Linked DNA regions of Homo sapiens: region 2 is linked to region 1. The links come from fine-mapping of genetic effects on gene expression. A gene starts in region 1. The other region holds a variant in brackets. All regions are shown on one strand. Distances are from middle to middle. Region 1 holds the start of IPO11 (importin 11). Region 2 overlaps IPO11 (importin 11).

Evidence for each region.
Region 2: its variant is fine-mapped to the expression of IPO11 in whole blood (TOPMed, PIP above 0.99).

What each region holds. Positions count from the first base shown.
Region 1 is chr5:62,405,180-62,422,066 of GRCh38, forward strand. IPO11 (importin 11) reads left to right here and starts at 7,584. Exons shown (of 30, transcript NM_016338.5): 1 at 7,584-7,750. RefSeq lists an enhancer at 7,505-7,694 and a silencer at 8,025-8,074.
Region 2 is chr5:62,595,754-62,612,640 of GRCh38, forward strand. IPO11 (importin 11) reads left to right here. Exons shown (of 30, transcript NM_016338.5): 29 at 6,011-6,095. IPO11-LRRC70 (IPO11-LRRC70 readthrough) reads left to right here. Exons shown (of 4, transcript NR_073584.1): 3 at 6,011-6,095. Among named protein-coding and RNA genes, the nearest start is that of LRRC70, 25 kb to the left of the region's middle. RefSeq lists a silencer at 14,273-14,391. The variant C/T (reference allele first, on the strand shown) is at 10,024.

The DNA of each region.
Region 1 (16,887 bases):
TCTTCCTGTCATTACTAAAGCTAACTCTCTTTTGAGCAATTCATTGTGTACATTCCCAAACCTTGGTCTTAGGCCCTTCTTTCTTTGATGTAGTTCTAAGTCAGAAAAAAAATCTCGTATACCCTAGTAGCATCTTCAAGTATATGTTTCATTTCATCAATCATTGTTATTCCACAATTCTAAAGAGTACACTGTGCTAGGCACTTCCAAATGTTAATAGGATGGACATGGCCTGGAGAGGTGGCTCATGCCTGTAATCCCAGCACTTTGAGAGGCCAAGGCGAGCGGATCACTTGAGCTGAGAAGTTTGAGATCAACCTGGGCAACAAAGTGAGACCCCGTCTCTACAAAAAATACAAAAATTAGCCAGGCGTGGTGGTGCAGGCCTGTAGTCTCAGCTACTCGGGAAGCTGAGGTGGGAGCCTCACTTGAGCCCGAGAATTTGTAGTGAGCCAAGATTGCACCAACCTGGGCGACAGCATGATACCCTGTTTAAAAAAAAAAAATTAACATGACACAAAACCCTGTGTGTGATTTGTTATTGTTGTTGTTGTTGGGTTTTTTGGTTTTGTTTTTTTGAGACGGTCTCACTCTGTCACCCAGGCTGGAGTGCAGCGGCATGATCTCAGCTCACTGCAACCTCCGCCTGCCGGGCTCAAGCGATGCTCTCACCTCAGCCTCCCGAGTAGCTGAGACGACAGACATGAATCATCTTGTCCAGCTAATTTTTGTAATTTTTGTAGAGGCGGGGTCTCACTTTGTTCCCCAGGCTGATCTCAAACTTCTCAGCTCAAGTGATCTGCCTGCTTTGGCCTCTAGGTTGCATTTCTTCTGTGAAATAAAAGGCAAGTTTTTCTGTAGAGAAGGAGCTGTGGAGGTGGTAGGACAAGGGGCATGAGTGCGGAGAAGGTTTGAAGATCCTTTATGCGCAATGGGAGAGGAAGATTAGAGGGAACTCAAGAAGACATGGCATGTCTTCCAGCTAAATGTGGAGCCCAGTATCTCCAATGTGTACTGCTGTGTAACCACAGCCTGGAGACAAGAGCAGAGAAGGCAAAATTGTTCTTTTGATTCATCAATGAATGACCACTATTGCTCCCTAGAATAGCATTGTAGGCCTTTCAAATTAAGTTCCTATTTACCTTACTTATTTACTTCCCAACGTTATCAAGTTCCTTTTTCTTCCTTAAACATCTTTATACCTCGGCTTTGTGAGTGCTCTTCCTTTTGCATTCTCGACCTTCCCCTGGCTAACTTTTGTTTGCTGTTAAAGACACAACTCATATATATAATATAAATATATATATTTAAATATAAATATAAACATATATAAATATAAATATATATATATATATATATTTTAAGATAGAGCCTTGCTCTGTCACCCAGGCTGCAGTGCAGTGCCATGATCTTGGCTCACTGCAACCTCAGCCTCCCAGATTCAAGCTATTCTCATGCCTCAGCCTCTCAAGTAGCTGGGATTGCAGGCGTGCACCACCACCACGCTGGCTAATTTTTTTTTTTTTTTTTGTATTTTTAGTAGAGATGGGTTTTCACCATGTTGCCCATGCTGGTCTTGAACTGGCCTCAAGTGGTCTGCCCGCCTTGCCCTCCCAAAGTGCAGGGATTACAGGCATGAGTTACCGTGCCTGGCTTCAAATGTTATATTTTTAAAATAGTGGCCCAGGCTGGGTTGCAGTGAGGCAGACGTTGCAGTGAGTTGAGTTTGCTCCACTGCACTCCAGCCTAGGTGACAGAATAAGACTCCGTCTCAAAGAAAGAAAGAAAAGAGGGAGGGAGGGAGCGAAGGAAGGAAAGGAAGAAGGAAGGAAGGAAAGGAAGAAGGAAGGAAGGAAGGAAGGAAGGAAGGAAGGAAGGAAGGAAGGAAGGAAGGAAGGAAGGAATCCTGAATACTATAAACAAGATTCTTCTATGAATGTATTCTTTAGAATGATCTAAATATGTGGCTGGGCATGGTGACTCACGCCTATAATCCCAGCACTTTGGGAGGCCAAGGCGGGTGGATCATTTGAGGTCAGGAGTTCGAAACCAGCCTGGTCAACATAGTGAAACCCTGTCTCTACTAAAAATACAAACATTAGCTGGGTATGGTGGTGTGCACCTGTAATCCCAGCTACTCTGGAGGCTGAGGCAGGAGGCAGAGGTTGCGGTGAGCTGAGATTGCGCCACTGCACTCCAGTCTGGGCAACAGAGTGAGACCCTGTCTCAAAAACAAAAACAAACAAACAAAAAAGAATGATCTAAATATTTTTAGATAATCATAAAGACTATGTTAGATTAATACAATTATTTAAAGAAGATGATTATGGTCTCTGTTTAATACCAGCATAGGTGTAAACCTTGTCAGTGAATATTACATAATTGATACCTCTCAAAAACATTTGTCAGATAAATGTTTCCACATCATTACCATTGTTAAAAGAGAAACTAAGGCACAGTAAAATCTTAAAATGTTTATTTGAGCAGACAGTGATTCATGAATCAGTTTGGGACTCTGTTAAAGGCGCACCAAAGAAAGGCTTTTATAGGGTGAATGTGGAAGCATGGCAAATAAAATACACTGAGTTGGGTTTTGGTTTGCTTCTGTAGGAACCCAGGGTGCTGGAGCAGCCTCAGTCTAATGGCCTCTCTATTAATTATTTTAACATCATAAAATAATGTATATCATGTTGCAAAATAAAGCTTTTAGAAGGTTTCCAAATACAATAAAAACCAAATTATTAGGGTACATAGAATTCTATTTGTGGGTTAGAGTCTATTTTTATTTTTACTATTTATTTATTTTTGAGATAGGGTCCTGCTCTGTTGCCTAGGCTGGAGTGCAGTGGCACAATCATGGCTCACTGCAACCTCCCTGTCCAGGCCTCAAGCGATCCTCCCACCTCAGCCTCCAGAGTAGCTGAGACCACAGGTTCATGCTACCATGCCCAGCTTATCTTAGTATTTTTTGTAGAGATGGCATTTTGCCTAGGTTGATCTTGAACTCTTGACCTTAAGTGATCCTCCCACCTCAGCCTACAGAAGTGCTGAGATCAGAGGTGTGAGCTACCACACCTGGCTAGAATCTATTTTTATATTGTATATTTATACTTATGTATTTTTTATTTTAAACAATATTTTATAGTATAAATAAATAAAAATATTTTATTTTATAAAGTGGTGCATGCTCCTAATCCCAGCTTCATTAAGGAGACTGAGATGGGAGGAACACTTGAGCCCAGGAGTTTGAGACCAGCCAGAGCAACATAGCCAGAGACCCTGTCTCTAAAAGCAAAAAAGAAAAAAAAAGCCCTTTTCCAAGTTATTACACACTCTGAATAATTAATATTGAAAACTGTTGGCCGGGCGCGGTGGCTCACGCCTGTAATCCCAGCACTTTGGGAGGCCGAGGCGGGGCGGATCACGAGATCAGCAGAACGGCGTGAACCCGGAAGGCGGAGCTTGCAGTGAGCTGAGATCGGGCCACTGCACTCCAGCCTGGGCGACAGAGCGAGACTCCGTCTCAAAAAAAAAAAAAAGAAAGAAAGAAAACTGCTACAGAAACTTTCACCTTGTGAATGCGTAAGGGTTTACTAAATCCTGCCTATTCCATTGTTCTTATAAAAATAGAGCCATAGACATTTTAGTTTATACCTGGAAAATATTTTCAGTACTTTGAATTGGTTCTCTAGTATAGATTTCCAGGCATGGAATTATTTACTCAAACTGCGTGAACATTTTAGTCTTTGAATATAAATTGACAAATTATTTTCTTTTTTTATTTTTTGAGACGGAGTCTTGCTCTGTTGCCCAGGCTGGAGTGCAGTGGCACAATCTCTGCTCACTGCAACCTCTGCCTCCCAGGACTGATTTACATAATCAGTCCTTATGGAAATAATAAACTTGTTTCAAGTTTATTATAAACAAAAATGAATCTAGGAATTATGTTAATTTATAAGCATCTAATGAGCTGTATTATAATGTAGAGTTATCCAAGACTCAATTTTATGCAAGTTAAAATAATAAATGAAGGGTAGCAAATTAGAGAGCCTATAACTTTTGAGCATATATTCTATTGCTGCTTCAGCAAAGTACCACAAACCTAATTAGTGGCTTAAAACAAGATACATTTATTAATTTAGAGTTCTGGAGGTTAGAAGTCTAAAATTGTTTTCATGTCTGAGTTTCTTCTGGAGGCTGTAGAAGAGAATCAGTTTCCATGACTTTTCCAGCTTCTATAGGCTTTCTGCATTCCTTGGCTCATGGCCCTGGCATCCCTCTGACATCTATTATACTGGCATATTTTCTTTGTCTTGGACACTCCAGCGTCCCTCTTATAAAGACCCCTCTGATTACATTGGACCTAGAGGATAATCCAGCATAATCTTCCCATAGTAAGATTATCCTGGATAATTTAATCACATTGGCAAAATCCCTTTTGCTCTGTAAAGTAACATATTCACAGGTTTTGGGGATTAGGACATGGACATCTTTTATTCTACCTACCAGGAAACATAGATCTAAATTTGTTTAGAAATGGAGAACCTCGAGCCTCACCTCAGACTAAATGAATCATGAACTGTATTTTAACAAGATCCCTATGTGATTCTATGAACACTTAAAATTTGAGAAGTACTATCTTTGTTTTTTATTTTTTTTTGAGACAGAGTTTTGCTCTGTTGCCCCCAGGCTGGAGTGCAATGGTGCAGTCTCGGCTCACTGCAACCTCTGCCTCCCGGGTTCAAACCATTCTCCTGCCTCAGCCTTCCGAGCAGCTAGGATTACAGGCATGTGCCACCACGCCCAGCTAATTTTTGTATTTTGGGTAGAGACGGAGTTTCTCCATGTTGATCAGGCTGGCCTCGAACTCCCGACCTCAGGTGATCCGCCTGCCTCAGCCTCCCAAAGTGCTGGGATTACAGGTGTGAGCCACCTCTCCAAGCCTGAGAAGTACTATCTTTCAATAAAATCAGAAGATACAGTTAAGCAAAAAGAAAATAAAGCATGGTCACAATACCCATCCAACTAGTGATAAACCCTCCTAGCATTTTGGCATTTATTTATTTCCAAAAGTGGGACATTCTGAACATAATGTTTTGCAACCCTCTTTTTTCACAATGCATTGTGCATGTGTAAACATGTCAACAAATACACTTCAAGATAATTTTATTTTGTTTAATTAATTAATTAATATATATTTTTTTGAGACAGAGTCTCCCTCTGCCGCCCAGGCTGGAGTGCAGTGGCACGATCTCGGCTCACTGCAACCTCTGCCTCCTGGGTTCCAGCAATTCTCCTGCCTCAGCCTCCCGAGTAGCTGGGATTACAGGTGCCTGCCACAAAGCCCAGCTAAATTTCTGTATTTTTAGTAGAGATAGGGTTTCACCATGTTGGCCAGGCTGGTCTCGCTCTCCTGACCTCCAGCAATCCACATGCCCCGGCCTCCCAAAGTGCTGGAATTACAGGCATGAGACACTGCGCCCGGCCTATTTATTTTTTCTTGAGATGGAGTCTCGCTCTGTCGCTTAGGCTGGAGTGCAGTGGTGCGAACTCGGCTCACTGCAACCTCCGCCTCCCGGCCTCAAGCGATTCTTCTGTCTCAGTCTCCTGAGTAGCTGGGATTACAAGCGCATGCCACCACGCCAGGCTAATTTTTGTAGTTTCAGTAGAGACAGGGTTTCACCATGTTGGCCAAGCTGGTCTTGAACTCCTGACCTCAGGTGACCTGTCCGTCTTGGTCTCCCAAAGTGCTGTGATTACAGGTGTGAGCCACTGTGCCCGACCTCAACATAATTTTAAATGGTCAATTTGTATTTTATTATGTATGGATGTATTGTGATTTAATCATTTGTGTCATTGGTGGTTGTTTAGGTAATTTTATCTTTTTACTTTAAAAAACAGCCCTTGTGTGATCGACATTCTTGGAATGCAGAGCTTGGTTCAAATCCTAACATGGCCTTTTACTAGCTGTTTGACGTTAGGTGGGCTACTTGACTTCTCTGTGCTTCAGTTTCTTCATCTGTGAAGTGGACATAAAGAAAATACCTACCTCATAAGGGTTGTTCTGAGGATTAAAATAGATAATTCCCATAAAGATCTTAAAACTGTACCTGGAATATTCTAAATTAGCAATAAAGGTTTTCTATTATTAATATTTTTGAACACTCTATTTCCTTACAACTTCTTTTACTATTATTATTATTATTTTGAGACGGAGTTTTGCTCTTATTGCCCAGGCTGGAGTGCAATGGCGCGATCTCGCCTCACTGCAACCTTTGCCCCCAGGGTTCAAGCGATTCTCCTACCTCAGCCTCCCGAGTAGCTGGGATTACAGGGGTGCACCATCATGCCCAGCTAATTTTTTATATTTTTAGTAGAGATGGGGTTTCTCCTTGTTGGTCAAGCTGGTCTCGAACTCCTGACCTAAGGTGATCTGCCCGCCTCGGCCTCCCAAAGTGCTGGGATTACAGGCGTGAGCCACTGTGCCTGGCCTTACTATTATTATTTTTAAGAAATATATAGTTGGTGTGTATTTTTAATTAATTTATTTATTTTGAGACGGAGTCTATTTATTTATTTATTTATTTATTTGTTTATTTATTTTGAGACGGAGTCTCGCTCTGTTGCCCAGGCTGGAGTGCAGTGGAGCAATCTTGGCTCACTGCAACCTCTGCCTCCAGGGTTCAAGCGATTCCCCTGCCTCAGCCTCCTGAGTAGCTGGGATTACAGGCGCCCGCCACCGCGCCAGGCTAATTACTGTATTTTTAGTAGAGACAGGGTTTCATCATGTTGGCCAGGCTGGTCTCGAACTTCGGACTTCGTGGTCCGGCCGCCTCAGCCTCCCAAAGTGCCGGGATTACAGGTGTGAGCTACTGTGCCCACCCCTTATTATTTTTGAAATGGGTGTGTGTGTGTGTGTGTGTGTGTGTGTGTGAACTCTCTATATGTCCCAGGTTGGCTTCGAATTCCTGGGCTCAAGTGATCCTCCTGCCTCCATATCTGGAGTAGCTGGGACTACAGGCGCGCGCCACTGCGCCTGAGTAAGTTCTCTTTTTAAGGATAAGAAAATTTAGGTGACTATGCTAGCTTTTAGCAGAGGCAAGCAGAACTGGATTTATGTCCTTTTACATTTTTCCACTCTTGCTATTACTCAGGAGTAAGCGCCAAGCAATTTGGGTAACTTAAAAAATAAATATTTGCGGGAGGGAGGGTGGACTGATGGGAGTAAGATTCTTTAAATAACTCTTCTCTGCTGTGACGGATCCGCTATTGATATCTAGAATATAAAGCGTGAAATGGTTCTGATTGAAGCTTCAATCAACGCAGGAAACAATTGAGCTCCCTGGGAGTCGGAGAAACCAGACCTATGGTTTCCATGGTGACAGATCCGGCTAGTCCGGACTCCTGGCTCTTTATACTGCGCAAGCGCACTGCGCAAGCGCACACAACTGATTTGGATACCCCGCGCCTTTTGGTTCAAAGACAAAGCCCCTCCTTCCCCTTCCCGCCGTTCGCCTATCGCCTTCTCTCTCTGCCGGTCGCATGCGCGCTGGTCTCCTGTGACGTAGTTTTCGCGCGTCCGCGTCGTTTGGAGCTGCGACGCCAAACATGGCGTGTTCCTAGAAGCCGCTTTCGGCATCAGTAGGCGGCGGCGTGGGGTCTGGCAGCGTGGGGAGAGGGACCAACCGACGCCACTTCGTGTTGGGAAGTGGGAGCGGGAGGGCCGGGCAATTCCCGACCGAACCAAACGGTGAGGCCCCGGCCCGAGAGCCACCGAGCGCGCGGGAGTGGAAGGGAGTGGGTTGGGCACCCGAGTCCCGAGAGGCGGGAGGAAAGTGGGGCTACCAGGAGATGAGGGATAACGGTAGCGAGGCAAGGGCGGCCTGCAGACTTGGCTGTTTGCGCAACCTTAGGAACCCGGGGAACTGGGGGCTGGCCGAGGCAGCCCGGGAGTGGGCAGCATGGTAGTGGAGCAATCAGGGTGCGGGGTGGGAGGGACCGTATGCTAGGCTGAGCAGAGGCGAGTGTACCCATCGTGACCGCGGTTGCGGACCTGGGTGATGCATTTGCCCTTGGGGGATAGGTGGTGCAAATTTTGAGATAAAGTGGTTATCTCGAGTATAAGACCGTTGTGCATTGTTACTGCGCACGCGACCTTGTTGCTAATAGCAATAGTGTGATAGCTTTAAACATTAGACCCTTACATGCTTTTAATGAAAAAGTGAAGGTAGTTGTCCGTTTATAGAGAGGAGCTTCATGGAGAGGTATGGCCGCCAATTCTCAAGCTCAGCGACTCCTGTAGATTTATATTTGGGGGTATTTGTGATTCAGCAAAACTACTTTTGCTTATTACGTGTGTCATTTTTTCTTTATTATTTTGTGACATGTTGGTGAATGAGAGAAGTACTATCTGAAAGTGATTTGACTAAATAGCAAGGACTGGTAAATTACCTACTAGTGCCAAGGTTGCAGTTGACATACCTCCTCCCCTCCATAATTTAAACGAGCTCAGTTGTAGCGCGGTAGTGCCCTTCAGATTTCGGTTATTCTTCAGAAGGAAGAATAGTTTGTAGCCATAATGCTTTTCCCCCTCCTGGGATAGGAATTTTCTTCCTCCATTTTCATGTTATTTCAAACTTCTCTGTTCAGTAGAGGAGCTTCAGATTAAGGGCAGGGTGACTCTTCTATAGGAGACATCCATTGCATGACACATATTACATCTTTCATCACTGAGGAAAATTTCGGTGAAAGTAGAAACATTTTCCCTTTTGGTTATGATGGGACTGGTATTTTCTCTGTTTCTGCAGTAACCTAGCACAGGGTATAGTAGAAACAATTAATTATAGTAGTGGCTTGTGGCCATATATTATAGTCTCAGGGTAGGAGGGTGGTCTCCGCCCTAGTTGAACTTCTAAGGCCAAAGAGAATTTTCACCACAAACACATTTGGCTGTGGTAATGTTAGAGGTTTTAAACAAATATGTAAAGATTATCTGATCATTAATAGAACAATTTTTAGATTTTGTGATGTTTGAATATATTTGCATTTGGAATCAAACCAGAATGCAGCATGATCCTTGTAGGCATGTGGCTATTAAAATACACTGAAGATTTTTCCAGAAACAAAATTTTTTTTTCTCAGCAATAAAAATATTCAAATTTTGGGTAAGGTAATGTTTGATTATTTGGATTTTGACCTTTGTGTTATATATTTGTACCTGTGTGTGTGTATGTATGTAACCTCACTTCTAATTTAGTGTTATTGATGGTAATATTTTTTCCTTTCTTTATCAGCTTCAAATAGGGACTGTTAATTTCAGAGCGTTTAAGGAATGGCAAAACACATTTAGTGCTGGTGTGAGTCTGTAGTGTGTTTGGTTTGCTGACTATCAGACTTATTACAGATAAGTCCACAGTTATAAGCTTTGTAGAGCTTAAGTTGCATCAGTGTTCTTTACCCTTGCTACTCAAATTGTGGTATATAGCATCACCTGGGAGTTTATTAGAAATGCATGATCTCAGGCTCAATCCAGAGCTGCTGAATCAAAATCTGCAATTTTAACAAGTTATCTAGATGAAAGGAATGTTCAATAAATCTTGAGATGCACTACTTTGGTTGGTAACAGTTGAAGAACACTGAGGTAATGCACAAACCGGTATAAAAATTTATAGCATCATTTATTTTAATCTGAGGTGATCTTATGCTGATTATCCAGTCTGATGAAACTGAGGCCCAGAAAGGTAAGTGCCTTGCATAAGGTCACACATACCTAGATTTATAACCCAGATTCCAACTCATTCCAGTGCTTTTCTTTTGCTGGTTACTGTCAGAGCTTGTTATATTAAAAACGGACTAAAATTCATGAATGACAATTAGGTGTTCATTCAATAACAAACGTCTATTGGGTACTGTACAGGCAGCCTAACAATCCTGTGTGTCCCTGCTAACTGCTCCTGTTTATCATGGTGGCTATTAACCCACCACCTTTCCTCTTTATTTTTTTTGAGGCGGGGTCTCACTGTCACCTAGGCTGGAGTGCAGTGGCGTGATCTCTGCTCACTGCATCTTCCGCCTCCCGGGTTCAAGCGGTTCTCCTGCCTCAGCCTCCAGAGTAGCTAGGATTACAGGTGCCTGCCACCAAGCCTGGCTAATTTTTGTATTTTTAGTAGACAGGGTTTCACCATTTTGGCCAGACTGGTCTTGAACTCCTGACCTCCCTGAACTCCACCCACCTTGGCCTCCCAAAGTGCTGGGATTACAGGAGTGAGCCCGGCCCCGTCTTTACTTTTTTTTTTTTTTTTTTTTTGAGATGGAGTTCTGCTCTTTTTGCCCAGGCTGGAGTGCAGTGGCGCGATCTCAATTCACTGCAACCTCCGCCTCCTGGGTTCAAGTGATTCTCCTGCCTCAGCCTCCTGAGTAGCTGGGATTACCGGCATGCACCGCCATGCCCAGCTAATTTTGTATTTTTAGTAGAGACGGGGTTTCTCCATGTTTGTCAGGCTGGTCTCGAACTCTCGACCTCAGGTGATCCCCCTGCCTCAGCCTCCCAAAGTGCTGGGATTACAGGCTTGAGCCACCACGCCCGGCCCCCTCTTTACTCTTTACTGGATAAAGTTCCCTTCTGCTTCATAGAGGAAATGAAATACATTGAGTGGGAACTTCATTGCTTTCTGTTCTGTTTCACCTGCAAACATGAAGACCTCTATCTGTCCATCTCTAATGATATTCTGAGTTTTTTCTCCTTACGGGCAATATTTCCTTCATGTGTTTGCTAGGGCCGCCACAACAAAATACCTTATATTGGGTAGCTTAAACAAGAGAATTTTTTTTCTCACAGTTCTGGAGAGTGGAAGTCTAAGATCAAGGTGCAGATAAGATTGGTTTCCTGTAAGACCTCCATCCTTGGCTTGCAGATGGCCACCTTCTTGCTGCCTTTTCTCGTGGTCATCCTGTGTGTACATGCACCTCTGCTGTATCTTTCTGTTTTCTTTTTTTTTCTTTTCTTTTTTTTTTTTTTTTTGAGACGGAGCCTCGCTCTTGTCTCCCAGGCTGGAGTGCAGTGGCCCGCTCTCAGGTCACTGCAACCTCCGCCTTCCCGGTTCAAGCGATTCTCCTGCCTCAGCCTCCTGAGTAGTTGGGATTACAGGCGCTCACCACCACGCCCGGCTAATTTTTATATTTTTAGTAGAGACGGGTTTCACCATGTTGTCCAGGCTGGTCTCAAACTCCTGACCTCAGGTGATCTGCCCGCCTCAGCCTCCCAAAGTGCTGGGATTACAGGCGTGAGCCACTGCACTGGCCTGCTGTTTCTTTTTCTTATAATGGCATCAGTTATATTGGTTTAGGGCCTTACCCTAACAACCTCATCTTATCTTAATCACCTTAAAAACTTTATCTCCAAATACTGAGGGTTCGGGGGTTAGGGCTTCAACATGAATTTTTAAGGAACACAGTTCAATCCATAACATTCAGTTACTCCTTTTTCAACTAGTACTAACTTAACAAGGATTTAAGCATACCCAAGTCTCTTATTATCTTTTTTTTTTTTTATTTTTTTTTTTTGAGACAGAGTACTCACTCTGTTTCTCAGGCTTGAGTGCAGTGGTGCTATCTTGGCTCACTGCAACTTCTGCCTCCCAGGCTCAAGCGATCCCTCCACCTCAGCCTCTCTGGTGGCTGGGACCACAGGTGAGGCGCAGGCCACCATGCTTGGCTAATTTTTGAATTTTTTTTTGTAGAGATGGGGTTTTGCCACATTGCCCAGGCTTGTCTCAAACTCCTGGGTTCAAGCGATCCACTGGCCTTGGCCTCCTGAAGTGTATTGGAATTATATGGGTGAGCCACCGTGCCTGGCCTCAAATCAAGTCTTATCTGAAATATACGCTCCTTACCTTAGATTCTTAGATTCCTCTTCAGCTTTATCTATAATTATTTTTCTTAGTTTTTTTTTTTCTCCTTTTTTTAAGAGACAAGGTCTCTTGTTACCTAGGCTGGCCTCAAACTTCAGGGCTCAAGTGATCCTGCCACTTCAATCTCATGAGTAGCTGGTACTACTTGTGTGTGCCACCATGCCCAGCTTATTTCCTTTAAGTTTCTTGAAAGAATTCTCTATATTCATTTTCTTCACCTCCTTATTGGTTAATTTTTTTTTTTTTTTTTTTTTTTTTTGGTATTTTGAAGGCTGACAGTCCATAGCAGTCACTGAATTTGATGTAGTGGTGATCACCATTGATATCTTTGTTGCTAAATCTAATGGAATCTGTTTAATCATTTGCCATTTTAACTACTTGTTCGTTCTTGAAATTTTCTTCTTATACTTCTGGGACACCATATTTTCCTTATTTCCTTCTTAGGTTTTAGCCAGTCTTTTGTTGGTTATTTTTCTCTTTTCTCTGACCACTTTAGATGTTTGACTCTGAGGCACTACCCTGCTCTCTTCTGAAAACCTTCAGATAAAAATCCAAACTACGTAGTTTAGGAAATAAGGACTTCAATGCACACTCTTCATGAATGGTCTCATTTGTGACTTCAACTATTGCCTCTATTTTGATGACTCCCAAATCTGGCTTTTTAGCACAGGTCTCTCTTCAACGCTGACATATGTAGTTGTCTTAAAATACTTGACATTCATGTCAAAAACGTTGTGTATTTCAACCTTCCTGACATTGTTTTCCTCCTATGAGCCATGCAGGCACCAATCAGTTGGAAAAGCCCAAAATCTTAATTCTTTCCCCTTATTAACTTATGTGTAACCCCTCCTCCAACTCTCCAACTATCTAATTATTTTATTTCCAACTCTCCAACTAGCCATTATTTATTTATTTATTTCTGAGACAGAATTTCACTCGTAGCCCAGGCTAAAGTGCAATGGTGCAATCTCGTCTCACCGCAACCTCTGCCTCCCAAGTTCGAGTGATTCTCCTGCTGCAGCTTTCCGAGTAGCTGGGATTACAGGCATGCACTACCATGCCCACGCCTGCCTAGTTTTTTTTTTTTTTTCTTTGAGAGAGAGTTTCACTCTTATTGACCAAGCTGGAGTGCAGTGGCACCATCTCGGCTCACTGCGACCTCCGCCTTCTGGGTTCAAGTGATTCTTCTGCCTCAGCCTCCTGAGTAGCTGGGATTACAGACGTGCGCCACCATGCCTGGCTAATTTTGTATTTTTAGTAGAGTATGTTGGTCAGGCTGATCTCAAACTCCTGACCTCAGGTGATCCACCTGCCTCGGCCTTCTAAAGTATTGGGATTACAGGCATGAGCCACTGCACCCAGCCAACACATATCATATAGTTTAAAATGTAAGTGTTTCCAGTACAGTAAGCTATTAACAGTATAGTGCTATGAACAGCATTCATATAGTTAATAGCATTATGCAGAAAAATTAAGGATATCGGGAACATAGAGATTCTTGGTTGAGGAGTGAGCCCTTTTAGATTGGCAGTTAGTGGAGACCTCTTTAAATAGAGGACAACTTGAGCAGAATGGAATGCTGTCAAAGAGCAAGACATGCTTTTATCTAGAGACCAGAGCTTTCCAGCCAGAGGGAACAAATTGTACAAGGGATAAGATACATTTTATACATATTTCACTAAAGATGTTCACGTATTGTCTCCAAGTCTCTGTTAATATAGATAACTAGGTCATGCAGACAACCTAGTCCTTTGTCTCCTTATTCTTATATGCCTGTGCAGGGGTTTCTGTGATTATAGCACCAGGTGTGAAACTGCTGGGTCATAGAAGATACAGTCACGAGTTGCTTAAGGCTGGGATACATCCTGAGAAATGGGTCGTTAGGCAATTTTGTTGTTCTATGAACATCATATGAACAAACCTAGATGGTACAGCCTATTATACACTTGGGCTATGTGGTATATAGCTTATTGTATCTAGGCTATAAGCCTGTACAGCATGTTACTGCACTGAATACTGTAAGCAGTTGTCACAAAATGGTAAGTATTTGTGTGTTTAAACATGTCTAAACTTAGAAAGGTACTGTAAAAATACAGTGTAGAAGTAAAAAATGGTACATCTGTACAGGGCACTTACCTCGAATGGAGCTTGGAGGACTGGAAATTGGTTTGGATGAATCAGTGAGTGAGTGGTGAGTGAAAGTGAAGGCCTAGGGCATTATTGTACACTTAGGCTAAAATAAATTTATTAAGAAATTTTTTTCTTCAATAATCTTAGCTTATTGTAACTTTTAGTTTATAAACTTTTTGTCTCTGTTGCAGTAACACTTAGCTTAAAACACAAATACATTGTGTAGTTCTACGTTGTTTAAAACAGACGCAAACACACACATTAACTCAGGTACACACAAGGTCAGGATCATCAATATCTCTGTCTTCCACCTCCACATCTTGTCTCACTGGAAGGTCTTCGGGGGCAATAACATTCATGGAGCTGTCATCTTCTATGATAGCAATGACTTCTTCTGAATTATCTCCTGAAGGACCTGTCTGAGGCTGTTTTACAGTTAACTTTTTTTTTTAATAGGAGTAGTACATTGTAAAATTATGATAAGAAGTATAGTAGTGGGGCTTGGTGGCTCACTTCTGTAATCCCAGGGTTTAGGGAAGCTGAGGTGGGAGGATTGCTTGAGGTCTGGGGTTTGAAATCAGCCAGGGCAACATAGCCAGACCCCATCTCTACAAAAAGTAAAAAAATTAGCATGGCATGATGGCTCATCCCTGTAGTCCCAAGTCTCAACTATTCAGGAGGCTGAGGTGGAATGACTGCTTGAGCCCAAGAGTTCAACGTTGTAGTGAATTATGATGCCGGCATTGCTCTCTACCTCAGGTGACAGAGATCGTAACTCTTAAAAAAAGTAGGCTGGGCGTGGTGGCTCACGCCTGTAATCTTAGCACTTCGGGAGGCCAAGGCGGGTGGATCACGGGGTCAGGAGATTGAGACCAGCCTGGCCAACATGGTGATACCCTGTTTCTACTAAAAAAATACAAAAATTAGCCAGGCGTGGTGGCACACACCTGTAATCCCAGCTACTTGGGAGGCTGAGGCAGGAGAATTGCTTGAACCCGGGCGATGGAGGTTTCAGTGAGCCAAGATCGTACCACTGCACTCCAGCCTGGGCAACAAGAGTGAAGCTCCGTCTCAAAAAAAAAAAAAAAAAAAGTATAATGTAGTAAATGCATAAACCAGTAACATAGTTGCTTATTATCACTTTCAAGTGTTATGTACTGTACCTAATTGTATGTGCTCTGCTTTTATACAAATGGCAGTGCAGTAGGTTAGTTTACACCAGCATCACCACTAACGTGTGAGTAATGTGATTTACTACGACTTAGGATGGCTATGATGTCACTATGTGATAGGAATTTTAAAGCTCCATTAAAATCTTACGGGATCACTGTCGTATATATGTGGTCCATATCTGACTGAAACTTTTTTTTTTTTTTTTTGAGACAGGGTCTCACTCTGTCACCCAGGCTGGAGTGCAGTGGCACGATCGTGGCTCACTGCAGCCTTGACCTCCTGGGCTCAGGTGATTCTCCCATCTCAGCCTCCTGAGTAGCTGGGACTACAGGTGTGCCCCACCATGCCCAGCTAACTTTTTGTTTTTTTAGTAGTGATGGGGTTTCTCCATGTTGCCCAGGCTGGTCTTGAACTCCTGCACTCTAAGTGATCCACCCGCCTCAGCCTTCCAAAGTGTTGGATTACAGGCGTGAGCCGCCATTTTTATGTGGTGTGTGACCCTCTGTGTGTCCTGGTCATAGAATACACAAAATATATACTCAATTTCATTAGAGACAGCTAGATAGCTCTCCAAAGTTGTATTAATAGATATTCCCAGTAGCAGTGTTTAAGAGTTTCTGTTTCCATGCATTCTTGCCAGCATTGAATATTTTTGGACTTTGTAATTTTTGCTAGTCTGATCATAAAGTAGTTTTTCACTGTTTGGATTTTAAATCCCTGATAACCAGTGAGATAGCATCTCTTCTGATATTAATTAAACATTTAGCTCTTCTTTTCTATATATTTTCTGCTTACACCCTTTGTTCACTTTTCTTATATATTTGTCTTGTTGATTCACAAGGGTTCCTTGTATATTCTGTATAATACACCTTTGTTTTAGTTATGTATTAATAACATTTCTTCTCTTAATCTTCACCTTGTTAACCTTGTGTAGGGTATCTTCAATGACTCCATCAATTTCAGTCTTCAGTTCTGATGTAGTATAATTCATTAGGCAGATAGGCTGTGAACTTGATGTATTTTTGTTCTTTCTCAAGTCTAAAGCTAAAAATTCCCAGTTAATTTCACTTGAGATATTAATGGACAGCACTGAACAAAAGTAAAAGTGTTTAATCTTTCGGGAGTACTGGGTGGGGACAGGAGACTTACATTTAAAGTTCTAGAAATGTCACTAATGAGCCTGTGACCTTAGAGAAGTCAGTTTATCTCCTTATCTTTTGGCCACAGTGTCTTGGTCAGTAAAACAAAATACTTAAACTGTGTAGAGAACTGATATGGGTGGCTCCAAGGTGATAGGAAAATTATATTTATTTACTTGTTAACTTATATGGACTCACAACTGAGAGAAAAATTATTTTAATGATAAAATGTAGAATAGTGATTAACTGTGGGATTATTACTTGGCATACAGCACATGCATGTTTGAACAAATGGGTTTTTATAAATACAATGACAGGCTGAGCTCTTTATAGCAAGAATGAGATTCTTATAAGATACAGCTTTATAGACAGTGATGTCTTCAACCAGTAAATGGAAACTACCAATCGAAGATGTCTATATTTGGAGAGAGGACTGATGATCTCTTACACTCAGCAAAAAGTTTTGCCTAACTGCTAGTTATAAATTATAGTCTGTTAAATTTAATCTAGGCTGTGTTGTTATCTCTATTCAGTGC
Region 2 (16,887 bases), 190 kb after region 1:
TGGTTGGTTTTTGTTTTTATTATTTTTTTAGCTAGAGTTTTTATTAAGCCAAGAAAATACATTGATGGGGCTAGAGATTTGCCTTCTTTGCTTTCTGCTTGTCTGGTTAGAGTATTTCTCTTTTATTTCCTTCAATAATATTTTTGTTGAAAGGAATATTGGGAAATGAAATTGACAATCCCTTACCAAGGTTTGGGAAGTAAAAAGGAAGAAAGAATTTAGTGGCCCGGCGCGGTGGCTCATGCCTGTAATCCTAGCACTTTAGGAGGCCGAGACGGTAGAATCGCTTGAGCCCAGGAGTTGGAGACCAGCCCTGGCAACATAGTGAGACCCTGTCTCTATTAAAAAAAAAAAAAAAATTGAAAATCAGCCAGGCACATGCCTTTAGTCCCTGCTTAGCAGCTGCTTGGGAGGCTGAGGTGGGAAGATTGCTTGAGCCTGAGACATCGAGGCTGCAGTGAGCTGTGATTGCACCACTACACTCCAGCTTGGGTGACAGACCAAGGCCCTGTCTCAAAAAAAAAAAAAAAGAATTTAGCCAGCATTTTAAGAAGCCTAGAGGCACTAAAATTTGACTAGAAAATGACTCATAAATTGTTTTTATAGCTAGAAAGTACAAAACATACCAAGTATAAAGGAAATAGTCTTATTTGAAACTATTCTGTAGTCAGTGGAGGTCCACTGGTGATTTCCACACTGGAGGGACATAATCAGATTTATACTTAGAAAGGTCACTTTGGTCCATTGTGGAGGAAGACTGGCGGGGTAGATGTTGGTGAGTGGTCTCAGACCAGTAGAACAGCCTGGGATTCTAAAAGTTAAAATTTGGCTTTTATAAGGACTTTTTTCTCCTTCACTCAATACATTGACCCACTGAACGGCTCTTCAGAATAGAATAGAGAATACTAGAAGAAATGTTGGTTCCTGGATTCTGACATCTGTATATTATCTTAACTTGTGTAGATCCTAGTGACCTCCTTAGGAAGTCTCTCTCTCTTCAGTTTTCCCCCTCTGATCCATTCTGCCCCACTTAAAATTAAAAGCTGAGTTTCTTACAGGATCAAGTTAATGGGGCTCTATTCTGTGCTGACTCAGACACCAGCTTTCTCTCTTGTCTCCCTGGATTCTTCATCATTCTGCAAACATGCCATACACTTATGGCTTGACTAATAATATTTCTGCTCCTTGGTGTGTCAAGCCCTTATCCTCCTTCGCAAATATCTACCTCTAAAATTGCATTCCAGGCTTATAGGAAGAATTCATTCCATCTTTCCCTGTTTCTTCATGGCACTTTGTCTTTACTGCTAATATACAATATTTAGTTGCTTATATTCAGTCTAGTGACGGTAAGAGGATTTGAGACAGTGCAAAAGAAAGCACATGCTCATTATAACAGAAAACTATTAACATAGGATTGAAGGGATTTAAATAAGAAACCTTGATTTGGGAAACCTGTGGCATCAGGATATAAAACTTAGCTATATGCTTTCTAATTACCAGGATAAAAAAAAGAAACATTAGGAATTACATGGGTCTTATTTTCAAGTAGAAGAAAGTAGGTTTATCAGGTGTTAAACTTAAGACAAATTCAATTTAACAGAGTTTGATTAAGCAAAGAATTGTTCACAAATTGGGCAGCCCCCAGAACCAGAATTGGTTCACAGTGTCTTCAGGGCTGTACCTGGTCAGATAATATTTATGAGCAGAAACGGGAAAGTGAGGTACAGAAAAGGGAAATAGGGTACTGAAACAGCTGGATTGGTTACAGCTCAGCATTTGCCTTATTTGGACACATGTTCAACAGTTGGCCACCTATGATTGGCTAAAACTCTGATTAGTACAAGAAAAGATTACAATCTCTACACTTCCAGTTAGGTTACACTTTACTGTGTACGAAGAGACCTTCAGGCTGAACTTAAAATGTGTGAGGAAGAAACTTTAGGCTAAATGTAATTTAACACAGGAGAGGGAGACTCATAATATTTCTTCTCACTGAGTTGTCATGCCCTGAGCCCAGAAGTGCATTTTTTATTAATATTTATATAAGTGACTATACAAGGACTGTCCGTTTTAACAATAAAGAATTAGTTGTTTCTGATACACTAATGACTGTAGGTAAGTGACTCCAGGATTAGCTGACTGTGGCCTTAGCAACATCATCAAAGCCTGAGTTTTTTTCTACTCCATCCCCTCAGCATATTAACCTCATCTGCAGGCTACCATTCCTCATCGATAAAAAGTAGTTCTAGGCATTACAGTTCATGACAATGCCACTGACAGATAAGTAATCTTCTTCCTTATGTCTTTTTTAAGATCAAGGCAATCCTTTTCTGGAAATCATTGCATTAGATGTCTTCTTATGTCTAATTGGCCAGAATTCCTTAAACATTCTCCTGCTGAAAGTAATCATTGACCAGGGGAATGGGATCTCCATGATTGCTTATTGAACTACTGGCACTGGGGGGCTGGGATCAGCTTTTTCTGAAACAGTGGTAGCATGGGAAAAGAGGATAACTGTACAGATTCAGGGTTCAATTAGGAAAGAGGCTGATTATATAGGTCCACTACAGAGACCAACTGAACAATGTCAGTTTTGTCTTATGTGAAACGACCCATAAATTGTTTGCTTGCTTGCTTGCTTTCTTTCTTTCTTTCTTTCTTTCTTTCTTTCTTTCTTTCTCTCTCTCTCTCTCTCTCTCTCTCTCTCTCTCTCTCTCTCTCTCTCTCTCTCTCTCTCTCTCTTTCTTTCTTTCTTTCTTTCTTTCTTTCTTTCTTTTCTTTCTTTTCTTTCTTTTCTTTCTTTTTTTTTTTTATGGAGTCTTGCCCTGTTGCCCAGCCTGGAGTGCAGTGGTGTGATCTCGGCTCATTGCAACCTCTGCCTACCAGGTTCAAGCAGTTCTCTCATCTCAGCCTCCCGAGTAGCTGGGATTACAGGCACGTGCCACCACGCCTGGCTAATTATTGTATTTTTAGTAGAAATGGGGTTTCACTATGTTGGCCAGGCTGGTCTTGAACTCCTGACCTCAAGTGATCTGCTTGCCACAGACTCCCAAAGTGCTGGGATTACAGGTGTGACCCACCGCACCTGGCCCATAAATCATTTCTTATATCAGCCTAGCTGAAAGTCAGTTACATAGCCATAAAAAAAATCATTATTAAACAATTTATTGGAGGCCAGAGGTAAAAAAATATAAGTAGGAAGCGTTTTGGTGGTTTGCCCTAACATAGAATGGGGGTTAACAAAGTGTGTGTCCCCCACAACTTCCTCAACAACATTAGCATCAACATGACGGAGGAAATGATGAGAAACCATCACAGAGGAACTTGTGAGACATGCAGATTCTCAGGCTCCATCAAACTCTACTGAATTAGACACTATGGGAGTGGGGCCCAACTGTGCTTTAACAAAGCCCTTCAAGTGGTTGAGCTGAAAACTCAAGTTTGAGAATCGCTGATATTGGACATTAAGAAAATGACTGGAATACTTGGCCTTTGCCCCAACTATCCCTCCTGTGCACACAGATGGGCTCCAGGTAGAGTGGAACTAAGCTTTTTTTAGACAATTGCACTTATTCTGTTCAGGTGCTAGAATAAGGGCAATTTTAAAGCATCCAAATTTGATACCCTGAAGTAGAGAAAAGTTCATTTAGACAACAAAAATTTTGAGGAAAAATACTGTTTATCAGCGCTCAATGAATGTTTGTAAATTCAGCCTTTTCTCATCTGTAAAATGGCTGAATTACTTAGGGCAGAGTTTATATAGATTAAATGAAAGTATTACTACAAGTACCTTTAAACCCAGAAATGACTTAAAAGGTTTCATTTTTTCATGCTAACACCTGTTGGTTCTGTTTAGCTGGTTGAAGTTTCTTCTTGAGAAAGATTCTTATTTAGCAGGCTGGAGTGCCTGGATCTATTCGGTGATTTCTGCCTTGAGTTTAGAATGGAGGAGTGGCCACTTATATTCACGTTAGTCATTCCTATTTTAAACTGTTGTGTTTACTGTTTTATTAGTATAACTATTACTGCATGCACAGTCTACACACTTCAGTTTATTAGAAATCTGTTAATTCTTACGTATCTTTTATGTAAAGCGTGATTGTCTATCTTTAATCTTTATCAACAAAATGAGATTTGACTTTTAGTTGGAAATTTTCCTGCAGGACAGTTTTAGCTTTGGGCTTTTCAGTATTCTGTTATTTGTCTAGTTTTTGGTCAGTGAAAGAAGTAAAATCTGTATATATGTAACTCCAGAGTATACTCTAATATTAATGTGATAAATCTTCTTTTTTTGGGGGTGGGGGAGACAGAATCTTGCTCTGTTGCCCAGTCTGGAGTGCAGTGGCACGATCTTGGCTCACTGCAACCTCCACCTCGTGGGTTCAGGCAATTTCTCCCATCTCAGCCTGCCAAGTAGCTGAGATTACAGGAGCCTGCCACCACGCCTGGCTAGTTTTTGTATTTTTTCTTTTAGTAAACAAGGGGCTTCACCATGTTGTCCAGGTTGGTCTCGAGCTTCTGACCTCAGGGGATTCACCCACCTCAGCCTCCCAAAGTGCTGGGATTACAGGTGTATGCCACCATGCCCAGTCTTAATATGATAAATCTTTTAATTTAGGGAGGCAGAACAGAGAGCATTCACTATATGAGTAAGTTAACAGATTTTGGAATGCAGTGGAAGAATTTGATGCAGAATAAAGCATGCTTTCATGCAGATCCATAGTCATTGCAGTTAGAATTCAGGTCTGCAACAGACATAAATTGGCTAGTGTAAAGAAACCCCATATTATTATTCAGTTCTAAAATACAAACTGGGATGTAGACCTTTTTAAGACACTTCACTTTATTAAATAGCTTTTGGGTTGATAGAGTAATGTAATTTTCTTACTTTGTGTCAGAGTCCATTGGCCAGCTACTTGTACTACACTGTATTATATCATGGCAGACAAAAGCATTGCAGCCCCAGGTCAAGGCCATGCAGTGAGTTAGGGATTGAGTTCCTGCCGTTTTTCAGGACTTCTGATTTCTAGCCTAAGGTTCTTACTCTTTGATCCCACCAGTGGGCACTGACTGGATCAGAGGCAGTCACTCCAAACATTGCTTTTTTAATGGTAGGAAATAGAAACGAAAGACACTTGTTTCCACTGCAAGAATGAGCCTGATCAAGTTTTCTGGTATCCGCACCTGTGTTAGTTCTGTATTAAAAGCTGTTTACACAGCTGAGTCAGGAATTGTCCTTCACCTGTACTTGCTACAAAACAAGAGAACCCAAACTTTCTTTGCCACTGTTTATTGGTTAGGAACCTATGATCATGCTGATAAATTACTGAATTCTCCTGTTACAAGTTAGGAAACAGTGGGATTGTTCCATCAGTTTGATTCACTAGACAGTGTTGATTTCTGGTCTCCCTGGAACCATTGTTGACTGAACAGGAAACTGTTTCTGTTACCTCTGCTAATAGTAAAGAGCATGGTGCAGATATTCAAAATAAAATGATTTATAACTACCCAGAAGGTACAAGTGCTATCAGGACAAGTTCCTCATAGCACAGTCATGTCATTTGGAACACAAGGTAGATTGTTACATAATTAATATGTTTGTGATATTTAAATTATTGCATGTATAAAATTCTGTAGATGTGAAAATTATGGGGAAAAATAAGTATTTTAAGAGTTTATGTCATTTTTAAATAACATATAAAGTGTATACATGCATTACTTTGTCAGCTGATGGTTCATTGTTTCAGAAGTGGCGTATAAATAAATTACTAACTGAAATGCCCAAGTAAAATGCTCTAAAATGTTTTAGTGTGGCCCTTTTTATAGTGAGATATCTTTTCATAATTCAAAAATTTTGTTAAATTTTAAATTATCTAGTCTTTTTCTCACATTTTGGTGTGAAAAACTAAGAACATAGAATTATTCATGTTCTTAGTGATTTTAAGGACTTATTTTTAAGTGTATTATAGACATTTTTATTTAAAACATGTTTTTTAAAAAATTATTATAGCTGTATGTTGATGTCTCATCTTGAGGAACCAAAAGTAACAGAAGATGAAGAACCACCCACAGAACAAGATAAGAGGAAAAAGATGGTAAGTTATAAAAGTAGCTTGTAAAAATTAAGAACCATATATTATCATTTTCTGTAGGTTCAGAAATATCTATGGTCTATTTGTCCATCCAGCTATATGTCTATCCATCTATCCCATGTTACAGAATTAATGTAAGGTGTACCCTAAAACAGATACATTTTATTCCTAGTACAGAAAGTTGAGGTTAACTTTTCATCTGAAATAACTGTTGCTTATCTTAGTGCAGAGCAGATGATTTAGTGTTTTACTTATGGAAGGTATGTGTGACCTGCAAACCTTATTTAAGTTGAAATGTTTATTCTTCTGTTTTGAGGAGATGTACTGAAATTTCCTTGCATTCCCTATTATTTTATAGATCTTCACATGAACTTTTGCTGATCTGCATCACAGGCTTTTATAAAAATGCCCTTAAGTTAACCACTAACTTGTTGTAAAAACCACTAATTCTCACCAGAGGAATCTGATAAGGGGAAAAGAACAAAAAAAAAGGAAATATCTAAAATATCTTGCCTTTTAATATTATATATAATCGTGAATGTTTAAATATTTATTTTTACCATAAATAGAAAATAGGTACATAAGAAACTATTTTTTCCCTTTTCTTTTGGAATCTTTTCTTGTCTTCTGGCCTCATCATTTAACTAACTTTATTATACCTTCTTTCCTCATTTGCAAAATGAAAACAATTGTATCTACCTCATAGATAGAATAAATAATTAAAATGGTTATGGATACCTAGTAATTACTCTGTAAGAGTTAGCTGTCATTTTAATCTGATCATTGTATTTACACCTCGCATTACAGCACGTTAGCTCTCAAGGGCCTAATCCTTAGCTTATAGCTAACATTGCACTGCTCTGAGAGCCTTCTTTTAAACTGTTTGAATTTAACTCATTTTACTTTGCTTTTATGCTAGGTATCATCTCCCTAGCACATAGTGTAGAGGAAAGGACAACATCCAAAGATTCTTAAGACCTGAATTCTAGTCCTTTTTTACTATTACTTGTGACCTTGAGCAAGTCACCTTGTCTTTGTAGATCCGTTTGCCTCATCTGTGAAAAGCGGCAGAAATTGGATTAGCATATTTCCAGGGTCTTCGAACTGAAAAATTACTGTTAAAACTCTTAATATCATTACTTTTCTTCCCCCAAAACAATGTTTGTACATATAATAAGTCCTCATTTAACATCATTGATAGTTTCTTGGAAACTGTAACTTGAAGCAGAAAAACATATAATGAACCTAGTTGTACCATGGGCTAATTGATCTAAACAAGAAGCTCCTACAGCATATTTCTGGTCACAAAAACATCACCGAACTTCTTAATAAAGATCCAAAACACTTCTAATATTTAACATTGAAGTAAGTGTGAGCTATATATACGTTTAAGAAAGATTAATGAAAACAAGTTAAATTATTTTCCCTTGTTTTTGGTGAATCAGTGAGTGATGATGGTCGTGATGGTGGGTTAAATCAAGGAATAAATGTTTGCAAAGTGAAAATTGTAAGGAGCACCTCCTACTGCCATGCACTTCAAAAACGAACAAATCTGGCGAGCTCGCTGAAAGCTTTCATAGAGCAGCATTTATATGCATTTGTATGACAATAATTTGTATTCATTCATTCTTTCATTTTTGCAACCCACTTATTCTGCTTTACGGTAGTGGGTGGCTGGAGCCTGTCCTAGCAGCTAAGGGTGCAAGACGGGAACCAGTCCTGGACAGGACACCATTTCCTGACAGGGTGCACTTGCACACACTTACACTCAGATGGGAACAATTTAAACACGCCAGTTCACCTAGTGTGCACAGCTTTGGGATGTGGGAGGAAACTGGAGTACCCAGAGAAAAGTCACGCAGACATGGAGAGAACATGCAAACTCCACACAGACAGTGGACCCAGCCCAAATCCATTTGTTTTCCTTTTCAAAGTTACAATGAAATGATGATAGCAAGGACCTGCTGCGCAGTCATGCACTGCTCAGCAACACAACATTTCGGTCAACAGCACACTGCATATGATAGTGGTCCGATAAGATAATGATACCATATTTTTACTGTACCTTTTATGTGTTTTGATGTGTTTAGATACACAGATACTACTTGGTTACAGTTGCCTACAGTATTCGCTACAGTAACATGCTGTACAGATTTGTTGCCTAGGAGCAATAGGTTATACCATGTAGCCTAGGTGTATTGTAGGCTGTACCATCTAGGTTTGTGTAAGCACACTCCATAATGTTTACACAAGGAACTTGCCTAACAATGCATTTCTCAGAATGTATGCTCATCTTTAAGCAATGCATGACTATATATCTCGAGAAGTATTTTTCCTTTGAAATTAAACTGTTTTGTGGTTGTTTTGTTTTGTTTTGTTTTGCAATGGAGTCTCGCTCTATCACCCAGGCTGGAGTGCAGTGGTATGATCTCGGCTCTCTGCAACCTCCGCCTCCCAGGTTCAAGCAGTAACCATACCTCAGCCTCCCGAGTAGCTGGGACTACAAGTGTGTGCCACCATGTCTGGCTAATTTTTTTGTATTTTTAGTGGGCACGGGGTTTTGCCATGTTGGCCAAGCTGGTCTTGAACTCCTGACCTCAGGTGATCTGCCCACCTTGGCCTCCCAAAGTGCTGGGATTGCAGGTGTGAGCCACCATGCCTGGCCTATGTGGTATCTTAAATACGTGGAAAGTATTTTTTTTTGCACCTACAGTAATAATCTCTAAGTATAGCCTAACATTTGTCTTTCTACTGCTCACACCCCCACTTTATCATTCTAATTATATGTAGTATTGGTTTATAAAACAACCATTATTTTTTTAAGTGGCCGATTTTAAGTTACTTACTACAGTAGATATTTAATATAGATTTATATTATCATCTCTAGTAAGATTTCCAGTACCTTGGTCTTGCTCTTGGATACCCACTGCTCTTAGATATGCTGAGGATACCACAGCAGTTTTTGACTGAAGCTGGGATTGTGTATTGTATAACATTTAATAAATCCAATTATGAATACATGCTAATTTTCCAACAACTTTAAACAAAGAAAATTTGTTTCACTTATCTCTTAGAATTATAAGTTAATGTATTTTTTCAGTAATTACGTCAATCTTGAACTGTATTGTCTATAACGTTAGACATTTTTTGAGAACTATCCAGCAATATCTTGGTTGTTTCTTCAAAGGGGGAGAGTAAACATTTGCTGGCAAATGGTTATGAATTATTCTTTACAAAAAAATTAGCAAAGGCTTTTCTCATTTTAAAATGAAATTATTTGCTAGGAAGAAAAATATAGCTGCTTAGTTCCAAGGTCACATAAATGAAAATTTGATTCGCTTACTGTCATTGTTGTCTTAAAGTAGTCCATAAAATGTGGTGTCTGTGTTTCAGCAGCTGCTTTGGTAGAGAATAGCAGTAGTGATTGTAGTTCAGAAAGGCAGATGATTAATATTATATCAAATGTGCCAAATAATTTTCCATACGTTTCTGAGAATTCTCTATATTTTATTTCAAATAAGGATGAAATTTACACTCAGGAAAGCTATTAAGCTGTCCAGCCTTTTGATCTCCCTTTTCATTCAGCCTCTCTCTCTACCTTTCATTTCGGTGAAATAATACTTAGAATAGCACATGCAGCTCAAGCATTTCATTTAATATATGTTTCCTTTCTGTCCAGTATATTCTAATTAGTAGAATAATAATTTTATGACCTTTACTATAAAGACTTCAGCTAATTTATTAACATCTTTAGTTTTTTGTAATTTTTTGAAATCTGACTCATAGTCACTTGTAAGTTGTAATTTCCAAATTCTAGTTTTGAGCATTTTAATGCTTTCTCACAACTCTATGATACCAGCTAACAAAGTATTATTATTATTATTATTATTATTATTTTATTTACTTTTTTGGGATAGTCTTGCTCTGTTGT[C/T]CAGGTTGGAGTGCAATGGGTGCAAACATGGTTTACTCAGCCTCAACTTCCTGGGCTCAAAGAACCTTCCTGTCTCAGCTTCCTGTGTAGCTGAGACCGCATGTGCATGCCACTACGCTAATTTTTACATGTTTTGTAGAGACAGGGTCCCACTTTGTTGCTTAGGCTGGTCTCGAACTCTTAGGCTCAAGAGATCCTCCCTTGTCAGCCTTCCAAAGTGCCGGCATTACAGGTGTGAGCCACTCCACCCTCCCTATTTTTTCATATTATTACTTGGTTTTTTTTAAATGGGCAAATGAAAACTGTATGTATCTGTGGTGTACAACATGGTGTTTTAAAATATGTGTATATTGCAGAATGGCTGAATCAAGCTAATGAGCAAATCTGTTACCAGTTGAGCTCATTCAGAAAGAGAAAAGTTGGGCCAGGCGTGGTGGCTTATGCCTGTAATCCCAGTACTTTGGGAGGCCGAGGTGGGCAAATCGCTTGAGCCTAGGAGTTCAAGACCAGCCTGGGCAACATAGGTGAATCCTGCCTCTAAAAAAAAAAAAAATTTAGCTGGGCATGATGGCGTGCATCTGTAGTCCCAGCTACTTGGGAGGCTGAGGTGGGAGGATTGCTTGAACATGGGAGACGGAGGTTGCAGTGAGCCAAAATCATGCCACTGGTACTCCAGCCTAGACAACAGAACGAGACCCTGTCTTAAAAAAAAAAAAAAAAAAAAAAAAAAGGAGAACCCTTATGTCTCATTACAAACCACTGAAGTTAAAATGTGTGCGGCCGGGTACGGTGGCTCACGCCTGTAATCCCAGCACTTCGGGAGGCCGAGATAGGCAGATCACGAAGTCAGGAGATCGAGACCACCCTGGCTAACACAGTGAAACCCCATCTCTACTAAAAATACAAAAAAATTAGCCGGGCGTGGTGGCATGCGCCTGTAGTCCCATCTGCTGCATTATCATTTGAATGTGTTTTAAATTGAAACATATATATGGCAAACATAATCTGCAGCTTTACTTAGCTTTTTAATGCAATCAAGTATGTGTAGACTGCAGCTCTGGCAAGCTTGGCATCATAGTCTTTTGCCTAGGCTCCAGCATATGTAAGTAAACTATACGTTAGGTTGAGTTGCATTTTATTTGATGAATTTATAAGTACATCCTAAGTTTCATGCCAAATATAACAAATCCTGAGCATGGCTTTTGTACTGTCTTAGAGTGATTATTGTTTCTGTACTGCTCTTGCCAAATACTGTACTGGCTCAAGGATGGAGAACAGTGCTGCACTGTGAGGATGGAATTGTCCTGCAATCAGAGCCTACACATAGCTAACATTTTTCTCTTAGAGCACAGAGATATCTCCCTCATTTTCCCCTCCCTGCTTTCCCCTCCTTTACTCATCAACTCTGAAAACTTTCATTTTGTCTAACTTTTGGATCTAGAAGCTTTCTTTAGACTTGTACTTGTTAGAATTTAGAATACATCATCAAAAGGAAAGTGACACTGTTATGAGTTGAAACTATTTCATAAGGTTTTCTGGAAATCTTTATTCCAAATATAATGTCAACAGGGCACCCTGTGGTAGTGGCTTGGGGTGGGAGTTTTTAAACTCTCTCTGGATGATTTTGACCACTGAGAACCAGTAGATTGATTCTTTTGCCTGCTCCCATTTGCTTCTAGAAAACCTCAGCAGAACTACTATAAAGATAGAATTGTATTGGTACTGATAAGGTACTGTGTTGTTCTTAATTAAATATCAGTAATTTTTAATGTATGCATAAAATACATTTTCCTTTTGCAAATAATATGAGAATAATTCATCATCATATTGGTGGCTTCAGAACTGCCCTTTGAGAATCCTTACCTTATAGCATTCAGTAATCAAGATAAATTATAGCATTGTTGAAAATACTTTTTAGTATTCAGCTTACATGCAGTCCACCCAGGTTATGAGTTGAGAGACCTTTTTTCTTTTCTCAACTTGCGCAGTTAACATTTATCACTTCTAGTATCATGCCACATCTCTTTTTTTTTTTTTTGGAGAGTCTTACTCTGTCACCCAGGCTGGAGTGCAGTGGTGCTATCTCAGCTCACTGCAACCTGCTATCTCAGCTCACTGCAACCTCTGCCTCCCGGGTTCAAGCGATTCTCCTGCTTCAGCCTCCCAAGTAGCTGGGATTACAGGTGTGCACCACCACTGCTGGATAATTTTTGTATTTTTAGGTTAGAGACGGGGTTTCACCATGTTGGCCAGGCTGTTCCTGAACTCCTGACCTCAAGTGATCCACCCGCCTTGGCCTCCCAAAGTGCTGGGATTACAGGCATGAGCCACCACTCCTGGCCTCTCATGCCACATCTTGACCCCAAACCTTGAACTCCAACATTTCTCTCTCATCACAGTCTCTTCTTCCTTACTAATCATTCCTTTTCTTTTGGTAGATCTATTTTGAACTTTATCTGGAGCCCTACAATTTTTCCTTACTTTGTCCTCTTAAATCCTAGAGTACCATATTCTTTGCTGTTTTTACCTTTGGACAAGCTATAGCCCTCACCCTCTCTATTTCAGACTTACTGTATCTGGGGGCCTGGGAATCAGGCATACATATTTTCTAAAAGCTTCACATGTTCTTTTGGTATATAACCAGGGTTGAAAACCACTAGAATAAGAATTAAACCCCTTGACACTCTTTTAAGAAAGACCTCTGCAGTCTGCCTCCTTTTAAACTTTGTCCTGTATTCTCATTCTATCTCCTTCACTGGCTAAACCAAATGACTTGTCTCCACACGTTATATGGTTTCTGCCTCTATTACATGCTAGTCCTCCATCTGGAATAGCCCTTTTGTCCCTTTTCTCCCCACTGAGTTTTCTCATTTGCCATTTTAATTCCCATATATGCCGTGTCCCCCACATAGATGCAACCTCCCCCACTGTCCACATCCTGTACCACAGTGTTAAATTTGTTACAGCTGATGACCCTACATTGACACATCATCACTGACAATTGATAGTTTATGTTAGGGTTCACTCTGGTATTGTACATTCTATGGGTCTTAATAAATGTATAACGATGTGTATCCAACATTGTAGTATCATACGTAAGAGTTTCACTGCCTTCAAAATCCTGTGCTCTGCCTAGTCATCCCTCCCTCCCCTGAGCCCCTGGTGTTTTTACTGTCTCCATCGTTTTGTCTTTTCTGGAATGTTATGCAGTAGGACTCATACACTGTGTAGCCTCATATGATTTTTATTCAGAAAGTCAGCAGAGTGTGATGTTGCAGCTAATGTGTGTTGTCACTTGTCTGCTGGCTCACCATGTTGGTGTGGGGAAGCAGCTGGAACTGCACCAACTCCACGTCCTGCCAGATCCTCTCTAGCTTCTCTTACTTTAGAGCCAGGCACATGCCTAGTTTAATAATGAAGGCATTGGCTTCTCTTAGAAGATACCCCATCAGCAAAGTTGAAGACTTGGAAGTGATGAGAGGCTAAAGGGTGTTCCCATCTGTTCTTGTAGGTTCTACTCATTCTTGCAGTTTCACTTTGCCCTGTCCCTTGGGCCATATGACTTCAGGCTATAGCATCACCAGCACAAAAAGAAACAGCCTTCCATGGACTAGACGTTTAACTGGTTCTCACAGTCATGGAAGATCAAATCCCTATAATAAGGCCAAATATATGATTGATACAAGCTCCCTAGTGCCTAACAGCATGTATGATGTATATCAGGTGTTCAGCAAATGTTTGTTGAATGGATAAGTGACTGGATGGACCAATGAATGAATGAGAGACACAGTCCCTGCCCTCAAGGAGCTCCTAGACCAGTGTAGAGACAGAACTGAGATGTAGGGCTGACAACACAATTGTGTCATTTTGACATCTCTAGTGGAGCAGTCTGGAGAAGAGCTGGGCCTGCCCCTAGGCCTCCCAGTCACCAATGTCTTCCTGGTTTGAGTTTATGCTGGGTGAGGTGATGGGCACTTCATTAGACTGCCATGTTAGTTGGTGTCCCCAGGGGTCTGGGAGCACATAATTCAGTGTCCTAATGTCCAGCAGGTGACTGCAAGGGTTGCTTCTGAAAATGAGGTTCTAACTGTTGTGTGTCCAGGTGCTACAGCAAATATGAGGTCAACTCGTAGTCACATGTGTAGGTCTGCTTCTGGCGCCTGCTCCTGGGACCACATTGGATGTGGCTGTTGGCGATACTGTAATTGTAGCAGTCCCATTTAGGGAAGCACTGCCTAGCTCTCAGGAGGGAATAACAGCAGTCATGGGTGAGGCAACAACCAGTTGTTGGCATCCACCGGCTGCCTCTGGCCCACCAAACCACAGTGGCAGCCATAGATGAGGTACTTGTAATATTACTGGATATATTTTATCATACTGTTTGAGTGAATAAAAGCATAGGCTTGAATGCTATGTTAACCTGGTTAACATAGAGGTACTCATATTTGTTACTTTATTGCTTGCCATCTGATTATTTCTTTTTTCCTTCAAAAATTACTGAAATGATTTTGTTTTTTTCTTTATCCTTTGGCACAAGATGATCTTTACAAAGTTTGTAGATAGATAATAGGAAAAAGCCAGCTATATATTGAAAAGCAGTTTGAAAGATAGTGAATATAAATTATTGCTTCTCATTTTGCATTGAGAAGGCAATTTTACTATTAATTTTTATCCATGTGTCTGTCTTTTGGTTGTCACTGGTTTGTTGTCACTTACGTGTTGGTTATCACATATCACATATATTTGCACCAAATTTGGTTATCATAAGGCCCAGTTTATAAAAATGTGTGCAAATCCTCACACTCCATTCTTTTAAGACTTAACAAAATTAACAATATTAAAAGCATTTCTCTGTTTACTCTTAGTTAAGTAATCAAATAATCAAGTGATAATAATCAAATGATCAAGTAATCAAATAATCCTACCTGCTACCATTGCACAACTAAATATATAATGGCAATAGAACTAGCATCTTCAAAATGAATCTTTTTTTTTCTTCTGTATTCATTCCACATACATTTTTTAATGCTTACCATGTGAAAACCATTGATCTTTATAATCAGTACTTCCTCTGAGAACCTATCTTCTAGGGTATTTTGATCAACAGTACATACATAGTATTTTTAAAGTGTTAGATATCATTAACTTATTACCAGGCCAGTTTCTTAAAATGGAAAGATGTACTTGTTTTTATCTATGCTTTGCTCACATTCTACCTGCTTCTCTAAGTTTGATTAACTGACTGTTGTACTGCTGTTGATACATCCTTATTTTCATTTCTAGATGATACACTGAAACATACAAAAAGCCATTGTAGGACATATAACTTTACCTATAAATATTTCAAAATTGTAAACCAAACATAGCTTTCCTTATAAATGAGGCCCACAAGCTCAATGTTAAACTTATCTCAAGTATTAGAAATACACTGTGGTCATGGGTAATTCAGGTCCTAAAAAGTGCAGAGTTGAAAGTGACATTAAAACAATCCAAGAAGATAGGAAATAATGAATTGAAATAATCCAACTGAGATGCAATAAAGATACAAATTGATAACCAGGCATCCTAAGGTAGCAGTTCTTCCTGTGATAGAGCTAAAATGTTAATCAAAAAATAGTTTCAGATTATAGAGGTTAAGATCCTTCACAGTAGGCTACATAATAGTAATCAAAGACACTGGAAAAGAAAATTCCCTTGAAAATGCCTTTGGAACTAAATAAAGTGATGATAGTGATGGTTATTTTTTAGTTGAGATTTCAAATTAATTGCCTGCTGACGTCAGTATTGTTCTTGAGTATTGCATAGCAGACGGCCTCACTGTATCTCCCTTATTTACTTGAATTGTTACTAAAAACCTTAATTGTGATGAATTCAGTAACTTTGCCCCTGTTCACTTGGAAACGTTGGCAACATGGTATTGGCTCAAGGTAAATAAAATCTTCAGGTTTGTAAATGAAGAATGTGGTCTCATTTGGGAGAACTTTTTTAGTAACTTAGGTAACATGCCAGGGTACATTAGACTGCCTTCATGGCAGTTTTTCCTATTTCCTGTTTTTCTCTTCTGCTTCTTTTTCTCAATAAATTGTAGTACTTACTGTCTTTTAATATAAGGGACTTGTCTTTCAAGGGAAGAAAAATTAAGTAAACTTTTTGAAGAATTGTTCTGTATGTGGAAGTTGCCATTTTGAAGAAATTGATTTTTCATTATAAAAGTAACCTATACTAAAAACCACAAAATGAATGATATGTTGTGAAATAACATTCCCCTAGGTAACCTTTACTAACATTATGCGATAAGTCCTTCCAAATATTTTATATACATACATAAAATATATGATCTATATGTATTTTAAATGTTAAAATTACGTTACATTCTGTTCTGGTGCTTGATTTTTCTTAAATGAAGAACTGCATAATTCAGTGAACCAGTATTTTCCAAACGATCTGTGAGTACATGTTAAAAAAATCATTCAAAGGTAAAGATTTATTCAGAGAGTAAGACAGGCCAACGGATTTTAATGTGACAGAGAATGGGGGTCTATTGATATGGTTTCAGAGTTCTTTTAAGAAACTACTATTTGTGAGTTTCAGTGTAGTTTCAAAGAAGAATATCCAAAATGGTCAGCAAAGGCTGTTAAATACTACTCCATTTTCCAGCTGCATATCTGAGAAAGACTGGATTTTCTTTACTTTAACCAAAACACATAATGCAACAGATTGAATGCAGAAATAGATACGAGAATCCGGCTTTCATTTAAGCCACACATTAGATTTCCAAGTATGTAAAGCAGTGCCATTTTTCTCACTAAAGAGATATTTTTATTTTGAAAAATAGTTATTTATAAAAATTATATTAACATGTAA